Regions from separate parts of the Homo sapiens genome. Here region 2 is linked to region 1. Evidence: fine-mapped expression QTL. Tissue or cell type: tibial artery. Region 1 holds a variant in brackets; the other region holds the start of a gene. All regions are shown on one strand. Distances are from middle to middle.

Region 1 (8,113 bases):
AAAGCAGAAACACTAAACATGTCAAAACACCTAGCGTGGTATAGGTAACCACAAATCTGCAAATGACACACTGTGCTGTAGATAGCAGGCCGTCCTAACACAATTTGGTCATGGTAAGGTTTAATTTATGTAATTAAATTAAATAAAAAATAAGAGTATTAATTTAAAGCCATTTCAGGTTCACAGCAAAATTGAGAGGAAGGTACAGTGATTTTGTTATTCTTAAGAATTTCCTCATTATTGTAGAGTTATCCAGAGTCTAAATACTAAGACAATAAAGTTGATTAAATTATTTTAAAGACATGACATGAAGCATGTACATTATCTTTAAGGGGTTTTCTTTTTTTCTTCAATAGATATCCCAAATATACACACAATCCTATTTATTTGGGTCTAGGATGTAAATATAATTTAACTGTGTGCTAAGTGCTTTAGGTAGCACAAGCATTTATCTATTGTAAAATGAAAATTCAATTGCCATCAAATCAGAATTTTGATTTCAGTCAGAAATGCAATAAATTATGCCATAAGGAATATATTTGTATACATTTTGTCTCAGATATTTTCTCATGTGGTATTGTGAAGGGTAACAAGTATAATATTATCTGTAAAGAATTTAAAAAAATATTTTTAAATATAACTAATAGTATATACTGATTTTGACAGTTTTCTTTCCAGAACTCAAAACGAAAGCTATTTTTAAAAATTAGGTGATTTTGATAACTATTAAACTTTAATCAATGCATTAAGAAACAGGCAGCTGGCGATCTAATGCATAAGTTGCTCTTTCCTTACTGTATTTTTCAGACCACTTGCGAGTCAGTTCTAGGTAAAGACCTGGTTTATGAGGACGGTAATCTAGGTACACTGTATTACTGGTTCTTTTGGGAACAGCTTTTTCAATCTGAGTTCCTTCATGCCACTCATTAAAAGAGGTGATAGAAATTAAGCTGGGGCGTGTCTGAAGTGCGGCACTCAGACCAATTTCATAATACTTCCCATTGATTCGGTTCCGAGTGTTTTGCGTGTTCCATGGACGGATGCTGGTATCTATGTATCCTGGGCCCACACTTGGGATAAATATTAAGTTGTATTTATCACAAAATAATTTTAGGCTAGCCCAATTCTGATGTGATGAGCCATAAGTAAAGCCATTTGTGGCAAAATATGTGTAAATTCCATCAAAACCACTTTGAAGAATATCATACTTATGTTTTTCTTCTACCAGAAGGGCAATAAACAGTCCATCATAAGGAGAATTGCGAATACTCCGAGACCCTGAGGTGGTTAACAGATTGGCCCATTTTTCAGGCTTGGTAATATAGGAATCATAGACATAAAACATAGGAAGAGCATTGCCAGTCTTCGTCTTGTACCTGTAAAAGGCCGGATGATTTCCATATCTAGAAAATAAGCATATATAAAAGTGAAATGAATATTCACAACTAATTTGCCACAGACAAAAACTGTTTACTGAAAATGAAGGAGTCAGTGCAGTTTGAGCACACTGCTCCATTTCTTAGGGGAATCAGTTGTGTAAGTGTAATAATTAAAAATGCATTTTTAATTTTACACATTAGAAAATGAGATACTGGATGCATTACCAAACAAGTATTAACCATCTCATATTGAGGTTTACAAATGATGACTAATGCCATAAAAAGCCTATGTCTCTACATTATAAATAATACTCTACATAATACCTAAACTGCTTTTTTATCTATCAGTGATAAATGTTCTACTGTTGCTGACAAGTTTCTTTGTAAGACTATGGCATCTGTCACAGACTATTATCAGTAAAATTCTTTCAAAAAATGAAAACTGTATTAATAAATTCTTTTTGATCAGGCTAGATATAAATGAAAATATCAGCTCTGGGTCTACTGTGTTAAAAGAAGTAGTTCACTTTTAATAATCTGAACCTTCTTTTTAAAAAGATAAAGCTATATTCTGAAGGTTTAGAAAATAATGTCATTTTAAAATATCAAAACTACAGAAATCATAAATAGCCTATAAACCTGTAAAACAGTAAAAACAGCAATCTTCCAAAAAGAAAGTGAATTATAAGAAACTTCAGCAATGTTCTTCGAAATGATGGTGACATTCATTACAATAACAATTTAATTTTATTAAAAATGGAATAATCATAAATCATTCAAATCTCAAATATAATTTAATGTACTATTCTTAAAACAATAATTATCACTGGATAATATAACAATATTTATAAATATTGAAGAAACTCACTTGTCTATAATATACTTGACATTTTTGTACATGTTTTGATCATCTCGATTGCTATATGGTTCTATGTGAAAAGTAACCTAAAACAAACAATAAAATCAGTTAGGGGATAAATTATCTATAATGTAAAATTAGAAGTATACTTAATATATTTAATAAAGTAACTGATTTAATCACCTTAATTAAAGATGAATATTTATTGAACACAGAAACTACCAGAGAATTTTTACCAATAAAATTTACTGCTAAATAACATGCTAAACATTTTATATTATTATCTTGGTTAATCTTCACAACTCCCTAAGGTATTTCTGTTTTCTTAGTGAGGTAATCAAAGATAGACAGAACCTTAAGAAAGGTTCAGTAAGTTGTTCCAGGTCACCCAGTTTGTTGGAGGTAATATTGATGATCTGAATTCCGAGTTCAAATGCTTAACTGCTGTGCAATGCTTCTTTTTATGTTTACTCCTTATAAAAATGTTTCTTACATATTTGTATCCCATATAATATATATAGGAAATACTCTATATTCAGATATATGTTTCTTTTAGGAAAAAGACCAAAAAAATATGGTCCAGAAAAATCTGGATTTTTTTCAGGCATGTGACCATTAAGCTTAAATTTAAATAGAAGTCATTAGCAAATTTATTTACATATAAATTCTTCCATATCATTAAAACAGCATTTTACAAAATAATATACATTAACTTCTATTAAAGAATTTATAATGAAATCGCTTAAAAATAATATCCACTAGTGTTATAAAGGACATTTTTCATGATGCCTAGGTATTTATGGTTTGGATATCCCATACACACACACACACACACACACACACACACACACCTACATACATATATACGCACACATACATACATTATATATATATATGTAAACATAGAGAGCAGTAATTACAAATATTTTTAAAATACTGTGCACAGACTAAAATTTTTTAACTTAAG[G/T]TTGGCTATACATAAATCAAGACAAACTAATTATGGCTAGTAAAACCATTCTGTATGCTACTTCTAACTAGTAAGGTAAAAAATACAGAAGATACTTCTCTTAGATGACAATCTATTTCAGATTCATAAAACAAAGAATGAGGATTTTCACTTTTATTCCTAGTTTTACTGACTTACCAACATCAACTAAAAATCTTTATGGCAGTCTAATAAATGTATTGATACTGTTTTAATTTTAGGTTTCAGGCTCTATGATGTATTTATGGAACTAGAGACTTCTATTGCAATATGAAACTCCTCTGTTTTCAATTACCCAATTAAAGCAAAATGTATTTTACATTAATCAGTGCTACTTGTTTTCACATAATTAATTTTAAAGTTAAATAATATTTAAAAAAAATATAATTTTCTACTTTAAATGAGATTACAGTAATATTATAAAAGTAAGTTTCTGTCATAAAAAACTAAGGTCAAATTAATTTTTGCAGCATATTGTTAGTATTGCCAGGGTAGTAACTGCTAGGGCAGCTAGATTTCTCAATAACTTTGGTATTTGCTTTTTAAATTCAGTTGAAAGCAAATTGCCTAGTGTATAGGTATTTTCATACTATTACATAATGTTTCCTTGGGTAATTCTTCCTTCAGTTACATCACTGTGTTTTCTAAATTTCCATTTTATACATAAAGGACACCATATTTAAGCAATATCCAACTTGAAATATCCTATATCAAAATGAATTTGCTTTTACAGCTGCAAACAACAAATAGCATGCTATTTTTGTAAAGCGCAGATCAATATATTTAAAGTAAATATAGTATTGATAAGTATAAAATATTTAAAATTTTCCCTCATGTATTTCTAATTTCTTAATTATAATAAAATTACTTTGCAATTTTTTTTTTTTTTTTTTTTTTTTTTGAGACGGAGTCTCGCTCTGTCGCCCAGGCCGGACTGCGGACTGCAGTGGCGCAATCTCGGCTCACTGCAAGCTCCGCTTCCCGGGTTCACGCCATTCTCCTGCCTCAGCCTCCCGAGTAGCTGGGACTACAGGCGCCCGCCACCGCGCCCGGCTAATTTTTTGTATTTTTAGTAGAGACGGGGTTTCACCTTGTTAGCCAGGATGGTCTCGATCTCCTGACCTCATGATCCACCCGCCTCGGCCTCCCAAAGTGCTGGGATTACAGGCGTGAGCCACCGCGCCCGGCCATTACTTTGCAATTTTAATTAATGATGTGATCTAGTCTCCATCTCTCTATTCCATTTGGAAAAATCAATTAGATCAATGTTAAAATAAATTTTAAAATAACAGAATTCTATACATAAAATGAAATGTCTTTCTTATCTTTAAAGAATAAGAATATAAACATTCCCTCATTTCATGTTTTTAATTTTGACCTTTCCTGTCTCTTCCCTACCCTGCATTTTAATAACTTTAATAAATAAATTTTAATAAAATGAACTTTTTTGAATGAAAATCTGATAACTTTCTCCTTCTCCAACTCTATTCTCTACCTTCACCCCTGCACACTCCCCTATCCCCTGCCACAACAAAATTGAGGTAGGTCTTCCTACTCCTATGTGGTGCCATAATACCTCATACTTTTCTCTTCCTGAAATTTACTTGTCTTTGTGTCTGACCTCCAGTAGATTACAAGGCATTTTAGGGAAAGAGATAATACTTCATCCTTCTTCTTAATATTGTCAGCATCTGGGACTGTATCTGACACGTAGCAGGTGCTAAATGAATGAATGCATGCATAAATAAATGGACTAATGATTTGCATGCAAAAACAAACAACAGTTAAACTCTTAAGTCTGTCACTTATACTGGATTTAGGTAAGATTCCCAAAGTTTCTGCCATGAATTCACAATATTCATTTAACAAGGAAAAAGAAAAAGGAGAGGCCATGACTAATATAACATGTTTCAAATGTAGGTGAAAATCATTTAAAAAAGAATCACGGACATACTTATATTCATGTTTCACATGGTTGAAATCTGCATAAGCCTGAAAAGCAGATAAAATGACTCTAGAGCCATATGCAAAGAAATAATGGATGTTGATAAACCTAGTATAAGAAATGTGATTTCTGCATAAAGTAGAAAGAAAATATGCTACTTTAAAATAACATACTAAATTTATTAAAATGAAAGAAGATCACCAGGGCTGAGTTGGTTCTTTCCCCTATAATCCTAAGCAAAAAAAAAAAAAAAAAAAAAAAAAAAATCACTGAATCTGCCTAATTTTCTTTTACTTAGATGAATGATTTAATTCAGTCAAGTTTTGATTAGATAATGCCATGTAACAACCCCACAATCTCAGTGGCTCTAAAAGACAAACATTTGCTTTTCGAACATAAAATCTATGAACTGGCTTATGATGGTTCTGCTCCAGGCTGGTTCAAATCAGCTCCACGTGTCTGTCATTCTGAGTCCTAGGCAGAAAGGGGCATGCTTTTCTTATAAAAGAGAATAAGAGCATAATCATGCAAGCACATAGTATACATTATCTCTTCTCACATCTCATCAGCCAAAGCAAGCCATAAGGCCAAACCCAACAACAACAGGGCAGGAAGTATACTTACTCTTTGCATGCAGGGGAAGGAAAACCAGATTATTTGCTAAACAATGACGGAATCTACCAAATATTTCTGTCATGTCTTACTCAAAAAATTGTTCCGTTGCTGTGTTCTTAATGGTGCAGGATATAGAGGAAGGAATCCAGCCCTGATTTTTACACTCTCTGCAAAACCAGCCTACTAAATGACAGTTATAAGTGCAACAGCCTTTGCTCTAGCAAACATGCAGACAAGTATACTTTAAAAGAACAGAAACTAAATCGCTTTGAAAAATCAAGATTTAAATTTTAGTTTCACTCATTTACACTTCCAAAAAAAAACCTAGTCACATTTGCTAAAGATAATGAAAAATAACTAAAGCACCAATCATTTCCTTTTCTTGCATGTTTGTTTATAATTTAAAAGGCACTTACTTAAAATAACTCTTGGTTGAAGTTAACAAATCAAAATTACAATTACAAAATATTTAATGACTAATATTAGTAAAAACATTATATAATCAAAATGAATGAACTATAACAAAAGTTTAACTGTGAGACGGATTCATTCCCTAAAAATTCTCCATCCATTTAGTATTTCCATGCTTTGAAGACTAGCAAGAAAAAAGAGATGTTACTAATGAACGCATTTTACACTTAAAAGTTTTAGATGTGGTCAGTTATGTGCATTGGAGGCTCCAATTTGTCAGCACACAATCTACAACATCATTAATCTTTTCCTATCAGATTGCCTTAGCACACTGAATAATTCTAGTAAGGTACTGTCATTCATTAAACATATTAAAATTTCCTTATATTAGCAAGAAAAGGGAAAGTTTTCCATTCTTTAAAAAAACAGGATTTACTGCATTTTATTGAGTTAGGAAAAATGTCTGTTCCACAACAACAGAAATCATAGACAAATCCAATAAAACTATCTTATGGTTTCATTGTCATTGTACAAATGAAGGGGATAAGCCAAGAAGATCAAGGAACTAATATAAGATTCCAGAGCTACTCAGTTAGAACAAGCTCCAGTCTCATGATTCCAGGTCTATTCTTTGTCTATACATAGTTCCTCACCATACACGAGGCCAAGAAACTGTTCTAAAAATTTTGGAAAACATTAGTCTATCGTGTTCCAAGTTTTTCTGATCATTAGATATAAAATCCCTAGCACAGAGAGATCAAGTATGCTGGCAACATTAAATAGGCAATTAGTGGTCGAGCTCTTTGCCACACTCTCCTTCTCTACACAGACACTTTAAACAGGAGAAAAAGCCAACCAATCCTCATATATCATAACATTTTCATTTTCTCTTTCAAAACTTCCTGAAAGTACTAAAATAGCCAGTTTCTTGAGCTTCCATCTTCCAGGATTTTGGCAGGGCCTGGACAGAAAAGCAGCTCTTGGGCTTGTTTTGTGGAAGATAAATCAATCACTTACCCAACCTCAGCCTGGGCACCAGAACCTGGAGGCTTGCCTATTTGCAGATTTCAAATGCCAATAAGAACTCACTGAAAGGCACCAAGGGACATGGCAGGTGACAGCTCTTGCTAGACAGCTAATTTGAGAGATGCTGTCTTAACAGTTTCAGGATAGTAAATCAGAAAGAAGAGGCAGCTTTATGGACAGAAATAAAAAAATGCTTGCCTATTTAGCTCTTTCTCACTCCCTACAGTTCCATTTCTATTCTCCAATAACTACTCAATCTCTAGGCTGCAAAAGGAAAATTAAGACAAAACTAATGTTTCACATTTTTATTTGAAACGAAATATTTCAACAGTGGTCCATAACATATCTTACAGGGCTCAATTACCAGTATTGGACAAACCAGATTGTCCTCCATTAGAATATAACTGCAAGAAGTTACAGAGCAAATAAAAAGCTTCAGCAAATTTTAAGAGTGGTTGCAATCTCAGAGTGGTCTCTAGTTAAAAGAACCTACATCACTTTTTTTTTTTTTTTTGAGATAGACTCTCACTCTGTCGCCCAGGCTGGAGTGCAGTGGCACCAATCTCAGCTCACTGCAATCTCTGCCTCCCAGGTTCAAGCAATTCTCATGCCTCAGCCTCCTGAGTAGTAGCTGGGACTACAGGTGTAGTATATCCATCAGATATAGTGTTTGAAATAAGATACTAAGAGACACCCTTTATCAAGCTAAAGAACTTTGGTTACTAAGGACTTCATTAACAATGAATTTTTATTTCCTAAAATTTTCAGTATCTCTTAAGATAACCATGTTTTACCTTCTTTAAATAATCAATGAAGTTTTATTTACTTAGTGCTTACTCTGTGCCAGACAGCAATCTATGTTTTACATATATTATCTAATATAATCTTTATAA
Region 2 (8,113 bases), 960 kb before region 1:
GAAATCAGTATGTTAAAGAGATATCTGTATTCCCATGTTTATTGCAGCACTACTCACAACACATAGCCAAGATATGAAATTACCTAAGTTTCCATCAATAGGCGAATGGATTAAAAAAAGTGCTATATATCCCAATGAAGTATTATTTAGTTGTAAAAAAGAACAAATTTCTGTCATTCACGGCAACATGAATGAGCTTGGAGGACATTATTTTAAGTGAAATAAGCTAGACACAGAAAGATAAATACTGCATGTCCTCATGAATATGAAGAAGCTAAAAAAGTCAATCTCATAGAAGGAGAGAGCAGAATAGTGCTTACTGGAAGCAGAAAAGGGTAGGGGGAAGAAAGAGATAGCCAAAGGTAGGTTAAGAAATACAAAATACAGCTAGATAGGAGGAATAAGTTTGAGTGTTCTATAGCACTATAGGGTAACTATAATTAGCAATTTATTGTATATTTTCAAATAGCTAGAAGAGTGGATTGTAAATGTTCCCAACACAAAGAAATGAAAAATAAGGTAATAAATATGCTATTTACCCTGATTTGATAATTTGTCATATACATGTATACAAATATCACATTGTACCTGATGGATATGTACAGTTACATGTCTATAGTAATACTAATAAAAGCAAAAAAGAAAAAATTTAAGAAGAAAAAAATCTTAGAAGTCATGTGACTTATGACATGTTACTTAAATTGTTTTATGAATAATTGTAAGAGATAGTTAAACAAAATCAAGCTGGAGAACAAGCCCAAGAAGCATATTTCTCCACTCCACTTCCACACCACCATCTTTAGAGCATTATAATTGCAATGATATTGGAAAAATACAAAAAGGTATATTTTTAAATGGGAGGAGACAACCTGAATATATCAAAATAATCTACTCAGGATCCATTTGGTGAGTATTCCTTTGGCAAAATGAATATGCAAAGGAATCGCTCAAAGCTTTGCTAAAAATCAAGTGAGATAAATTTAAGGTCCATTGGTGCTGGAAGTATAACCGAAGAATTTGAGAAGACAAAAAATAAAAATGACTACTGTTATTATTATTCTAATATAAAATTCTATAACACAGCTGTTTTAATTATATCTTTAAGGTAGGGAGGCAAACTCACTTGCCCTCATTCATAGAAAACTCAGTATGAATGACACTTCAAAACCTTGACTCTGTTCTCCACATCACACTATTGTTTTCAAAGAGACTCTCTAGCTTTATTTATTTAATGAATGTAAACCTTGCTGTTGACATATCCTAGTATGTTCTAATCAGGGTAATTAGCCCATGTGAAAGTTTAGACATATGGTGAGGATAAGGTAAACCCAAACCCATAAGAATGTTTTACTAGTTCATATAAAATACTAGGGTATGTCATCAATAAGCTGATTATTTATTTTTATTTTAAATAGAGTCTCCCTATATTGCCCCAGCTGGTCTTGAACCCTGGGCTCAAGTGATCCCCACGACCTTGGCCTCCCAAAGCTAGGATTACAGAAGTGAGCCACCGTGCCTGGCCTCAAGCTGATTATTTTGCAGGGATTTGAGGCATGTTGGGCAAAAAGGAGTCCTCCTTCTCCTCCTCTTCCTCTACCTCTTTCTTCTCTTCCTCTCCTTCAATGAGCTTTCAGGGTACCAAAAAGTAACCAAGAAAAATTATGGTAATTGGAGAGGAAAAAGATAATTACAAGAACAAGGAAATGCAAGCTGGTTTAACTAATATCTGATTCAGAGCTTCCCATGCGAACCCAAGTATTCAGCTTTCATTTCTAAAGAGATCATGTTCCCTCGATTGAAAAAATAAAAACAGACAAATTAAATATCTGTCTCTAAATATTCTCTAAATCTCTAAATTTTCTAAACTCTTATTTGTAATATTATAGTAGAAAAGTACCCAGTCTTATGTAAGAAACACAGATTAATTCAGCTTTACTCAAAATGTTGGTAAGTGTAATAAAAATAAGAGGTAAATTTGTCAGTGAGGTGGTGTTATATTAAAACACAAATCTACTACTCTTGCTTAGGTAGAACAGTCCCAGATTTGGCAACTAATAATAATGTGAGAATAAATAGAACAAGTGTAGAAAACAGACACTAGAGTTTACCTTCCCCTTAAAGCAATTTGGATTATGGCTTAAAGCATATATCATAACACATATGTTAAGAAATATCTTGTATGATACATATGTTTGCAATACCTATGTTAAATTTTAATCCATATGCTTTGCTAATAAAAATGCTAGTATTTACACATGATGGTATTGTGGATATAAAATGAGGGCTAAAATGGCTCAAGGATTTCCTTACATTTTATGTATGAGAGCTATGCATTTTGTTAATAATTCTTTTTAGTTTCCAATTTTCTAAAGTCTGAAATGACAGCTGAGGAGCTGCATTTGGTTTTCAAATGAATGATAGGTACCAAAGAGGATATGACTAAAATAGTGAGAGAGAAAGCATTAACACATATGGGATGTATGCTTTTTGCCTGAATAACACTACCTCTGTTTCAAGAAGTAGCACTTTAGATTGATATAGTCTATTATATATTTCTGTGGGCTGGAAACACAGATATTTTAATTTAACCTTAGAAAATTAAAGATTATGAATTTTTGTATGCCCACTTCTGGAAAGTAGGCAGATTTTTCTTGAAAATAGCAGGAATCTCATTAACTCCTTTTACTTAAAACCTGTAAGTGACTTCAAAATGTGCTCTTGAAATATAAATCTAGTCATAAAATATGCTCAGTGATAATGTTATTCATTCAAATAAATTAAGCCAAATAAAATCTCAAGAGCCCTCCTCTTCTTCCTCTTTTTACAACAATAAAGCTATACCCCACATTAAGACCATTAGAAAAACTCAAGAGGCAATTCCAAGGAGTTATCTGGCCCCTATGTTACCTCCACATGCAAGTTATAAGAATGAGAAATCTGAAAAGCTCAGCATATAAAATTTGATAACCTTTAGCTAAAATGGCTAAGAAACTTCAAAAGGCATACACTTTTGCCAAGCAAAAGTTTTCTCTTAAGTAGTTACTGGAAAGTTTATAAAAATTTCTCATCCTTAAAAAAAAATTAGAGAAGTCAAAATACCACAAAACAAAACAAAGGAAATATTTGGGGGAAAGAACTCACTTTGTCTTAAAGCCGCTTCTTCCTGTGATTTAAACAGTACGAAAGGAGAATATATGTTGATTATTTTTCCTCCAATCCACATGCATGTCAACTCCAAAAGGAACAGAAAGTCACCAGCACCATCTGAAGATCCCTTCCAACTGCATGCAGCTTTTTCAACTTTGCAGGAGAAAACAGAAGGGTCCCTGCATTTCCTCCAAGTCTTATACCGTGTACATGACTCCTACTGGGCTGAAAAAGCACTATTTGTCAATTTTTACTTAAAACTATGAGTAACAAATTCTCTGCAGGACATCCTTAAAGGGAAATTCTGCCAGGATTAGCATTCGAAGTATCTGGCTAAGCTCCAAAAAGTTTAAAATACACAATGTTCACACAGACGCATACACACTTGAGAAATTTCCACTAACTAGGCTAAATTAAGGGCATATTTATAAAAATAATACTCTAAAAGGATGATGTATTTTCTGTTTCCTCAATCTGTTTTTGGCTTTGTTTTCTTTGTTTTCTGGTGGTGATCAGAACCCTTCTTTTAGGTTAGAAATGTCTGAACCGCTGAGCTTTTCTTTTGGACATTGTCTCTTAGAATCTCCTTTTGAGGCCATCTGGAAAGGGATGAGGTCCCATGCTCTTACCTGCAAAATTATTGGTACCTTAAGAGATGGCCCCCTGGATTGTGGCCTCTATCTCTCCCTTCTTGGGAAATTGGGGAACTCTGAGACATAAGTTTGAGTAGAATACTCAAGGTAGTTCCCTGCTCTCTGGACTTGCAGTGTGGACTCAGCCTTCCCCGCTCTGCCTGCTTCCTGGTGAGCTGGCCACAATTGTGACATCACATCCATGGCTCTATGACTTCATAAAGCATAAACTCATTGAGTCTTTTGAAATCTTCAAAACACAAAAAGTGGACAGAGATGTCAAGAGTTGGATCTGAAGAAATTTTTGGATATTAAACCAATCCATAATAGGTATCCTCAGTGGGGCACACTGATTCATAAGGCAAGTGACATTTTCTCTTAGAATCTCCATTTGAGGCCATTTCTTCAGTTTGGAAGGCAGGATGAGAGAAGAAATTCTGCCTTAATCCCAGACCAAACTTAAACTGTCCTTGTTCTAACTGCTAAAGGAATGAAATGTTAATATCTTCTAAGGTCAAACTCGGGTATATACAGTCAAAGAACTTGAGCTAGAGAAATGCAGAGCCAGTTAACTGTATGTTTTGTTATTCACTTGACTTTAATGATTAAGACATTATGAAAATGAACATATGGCGACTAACAACAATAAATTTGGATTCAGCAAAAGGACACAAGTATATTTCATTAGTAATAGATTTTAATCCTTAGGACACCATTGCTAAACAGGTACTGCCTGTATTTTCCTTGTTTTATGGGCAAGGAAAGCAGTCCTTGAGATGTAAAAGTGCCTGGGACCATCACCCTCTTTATTTGCTCCCATGCTTCCTGAGAGGGTAATCTACATCCACCAAGTCATTCCAAACCTACTACATTCTGAGCCTTCTTCTCCCTCCCAACTTATTGCAATCTGTCTTTCACTTGAACCGCTCCAAAAAAGCTTCATTAAGATCATATACAACCTTGATTAGCAACCCAAAGAGTATGGTCTTCAGTCTTACCGAAAAATTCTCATCTCTGGCCATGTCTATTTCTTTCTGAAATTATCTTCCCTTGGTTTTGCTATGTTACACCCTTCTGATTTTCTGTTTGCTCTTAGCACCCTCACTTTCTCTCTATTCACCTCACTCTTCCCTAGAGCTTTATCTTCTGTTCAGTATGCTTCTCTGCAGACTTTCCATCACGTTCTTCATCAAAACAATGAACAATTTTATACAACATGACTCCCAAATGTGTACTTTCATCTGATACCACTCTTCAAGGTTCCAGACCTGTATCCCGCTATCTATTAGAAAACCTTGTCTAGGGGTCCCCAGCCATCTCAAACTCAACAGTCCCAAATATCCTTATTGTCTTCTCCCCATTCCAAACTTGTTAGTTTGCTGTATTTCCTACTTCAGGGAATGGCACAATCATCCACCCCTTATGTTAGAGTATTCCCTTTCCTCATTTATCCTCCACCATCCCCATCATTGTCCACCTTCTGTAGGTTCTAGTTTGTTAAATGATCTTTCTCAAATTTGTCCTCACCCCTGCATTCCATGTCTCACATGTCTCACTCAGATTATTCTGTCAGCCATAAAATAACTGGCATCTGCCTCAGCCTGATCCCTTTCTATCCTTCTCTATAGAAAAATATTATTTTTAAATAAGTTTGTTAAATTATAAAATACATGCTTCTTGCAGATAATCTGGAACAGAAACTGGAAAACATATACAGAAAATGTAAAATGTAAAATGATTTGCAATCCAAGACAGCCCAGACCAAATCTTTGTGTACCTCTTTAGGCTTTGTATCATTCATATATTAATGATACAGAGAAATGCTAAAATTTTTTGTAAATATATTGCATAACATAGTTATGCAGTATATTTAGTTAGAAAACCAAGACCACATTGTATATACTTGTAGAAAGTGCGAGATATTTTTCTTTTCCATTACTAGGTTTATGGTTGAGGCCCCTATAAAAAAAGGCAAATTAATAAAAGTATACAAATTATTTAATGTAAGTTTTTATGGGACATGGGAGCCTTTCAGAAATGAAGACTCAAAGCAAGAGATAAACGTGTGTATTTTTATGCTTAGATTTGATGAAGAGTGGATAGTCATGGAAAAGTATGACTGGACAAAGGGGATATAGTCTAATGATTATACACTCGGGGGAACTTAGCAAGGCCTGTTTGTTTAGACTCTTCTTTGTGTTCCTTTCTTCCAGGCATAGGGAGGTCTCTTGAATGAGGGTCTTATGACCTGCCTCGGGAGAGAAGGGTAAAGGGAAGGTGGGAATGATCTTCCTGCTTCTGGAGTTTTCTCAAACACCAAGGTGCCATATTTTAGCGTAGTGCATCCTGAACCCCATTATAAATCTGTATCCTTGTTTTCACTTAATATACTGTAATTTTCCAAGCCAATAAAATATTTTTTATTTTATTATTATACTTTAAGTTCTGGGGTACATGTGCACAACATACAGGTTTGTTACATATGTATACATGTGCCATGTTGGTTTGCTGCACCCATCAACTCATCATTTACATTAGATATTTCTCCTAATACTATCCCTCCCCCAGCCCCTCACCCTACAACAGGCCCCGGTGCGTGGTGTTCCCCTCCCTGTGTCCATGTGTTCTCATTGTTCAACTCCCATTTATCAGTAAGAACATGTGGTGTTTGGTTTTCTCTTCTTGTGTTACTTTGCTGAGAATGATGGTTTCCAGCTTCATCCATGTCCCTGCAAAGGACACAAACTCATCCTTTTTTATGGCTGCATAGTATTCCATGGTGTAGATGTGCCACATTTTCTTTATCCAGTCATTCACTGATGGACAAGCCAATAAAATATTTTTAAAGTGGCTATAACAAATAGTTGCTATGTAATAAAATACATAATGGAATAGCTCTCCTTTTTTTTCTCTCTTTTTTCAACACCAAAAGATACACTCAGCATTTAAAACATACAAATCACAGGACTGAGATTAAGACTGAAAAGAGGAAAGGAGAAAAATCTAGAACATTGACTTTAAGTACATTTACATTTATTAGGTTGTATTTAAACAACAATATGTTCTATGTGTCAAGTCTTCAAGTTCTTACCCAACTCTGAAGTCTGTATGATAGAATTAGGTTAAGGACTGCATTTTAGATGAGTAAAGACAGGCTCAGTAGTAAAACAGTTTGACAAAGCACTTTTACTTCTTTACATTGAGTAACACAAAACATGAGACAACCTTTGAGACTTTTGTCTTAGGTTGACTAGTCAGATCGCAGTTTTTCTTTGGCAGACTAGTATCTGAATAGACTATTTCAGAGCCAAGATTGGCCTGTTTCTGTGCAAGAGAAGGTGTCCATGTTCCTCTCTACTAGAGGCTGGGAAAAAAGACTCGTATACATTTTTTAGTCATTTTAATTCTCAGAAAAGGAAGACATTAATTTCACGAATAATATGTACATTTTAAAGAATTTTGGTAAATTGCCAAATTGCTTTCCAGAATGTAATTTTTTTAGAAGACAAATGTAATTACTTAATTTCCCTGGTTAGTTGAATCTTTTAAAGGCTTCCATGTTTTTGAGATAGTGGTTGAACTTTGTAGCTTAGTGTTTAAGGCATTTCAAAACCCCCCTATTCTCTCTACTTTATCTTACACTACTTCCCCAGATCAGTTATTATATTTCTCAGACTTCTTGGCTCCCCACATCTCATTATTTCATTCTAATTAGCGTCATAGTACTTCTGTACCTCCTTTTCTCTGCCTTAATATGCTCTCCTTCCCTTCTCTCATTTTCACCAAGGCTAATCCTTCTTTTTTTCTCTCTGGACTCTTGGTTCAGGTGTTATTTCCAGCCTCCCCATTGTGCAACACAGTCTAAATTTCATTTCTTGTCACAACACCCTCTGTGTACTTTTACCAAGACACTATATTTAACTGTAATTATTGACTTGTTATTTCTTTGAAAGTAAAACATACCTTTAAAGTTGATATGTGCCTTCCTAGTATTTAGCTGTCATACACGATCGAGTAAATTAGGCCAAGTCCATAAATTCACCATGTTCTCCCTTTCCTCCATTTCACCATCAATGTAATCCTGTCTTTCCTGCTCCTTAAAACAAACACCCAGATTGTCTTACTACTAATCACTTCAGAGAAATAGAGATGCAACTAGGGGCAAGTTTGATAAAACAAATAATACAACACTGGGAACTTATAAACATTGAATACATGTTTACAGTGGTTATTCCTTCTTTTTTATGATGTAAGTGTAATACAAATTGTTTTTCTGAAAGCCTGAAAGTCAGTTTCATTCTTAGAAGGTTTGAAAGAAGCCTCTCCTGGATCTA

Evidence for each region. PIP is the estimated chance that this variant, and not a neighbour inherited with it, causes the effect.
Region 2: FHL5 starts here. The variant in region 1 is fine-mapped to the expression of FHL5 in tibial artery (GTEx, PIP 0.90).

Annotation. Positions count from the first base shown.
Region 1 is chr6:95,599,038-95,607,150 of GRCh38, reverse strand. It overlaps MANEA (mannosidase endo-alpha), which reads right to left. Exons shown (of 5, transcript NM_024641.4): 4 at 2,248-2,324; 5 at 1-1,403. The coding sequence ends at 746. Among named protein-coding and RNA genes, the nearest start is that of MANEA, 26 kb to the right of the region's middle. The variant G/T (reference allele first, on the strand shown) is at 3,206.
Region 2 is chr6:96,558,384-96,566,496 of GRCh38, reverse strand. FHL5 (four and a half LIM domains 5) reads right to left here and starts at 3,369. Exons shown (of 6, transcript NM_001322466.2): 1 at 3,142-3,369.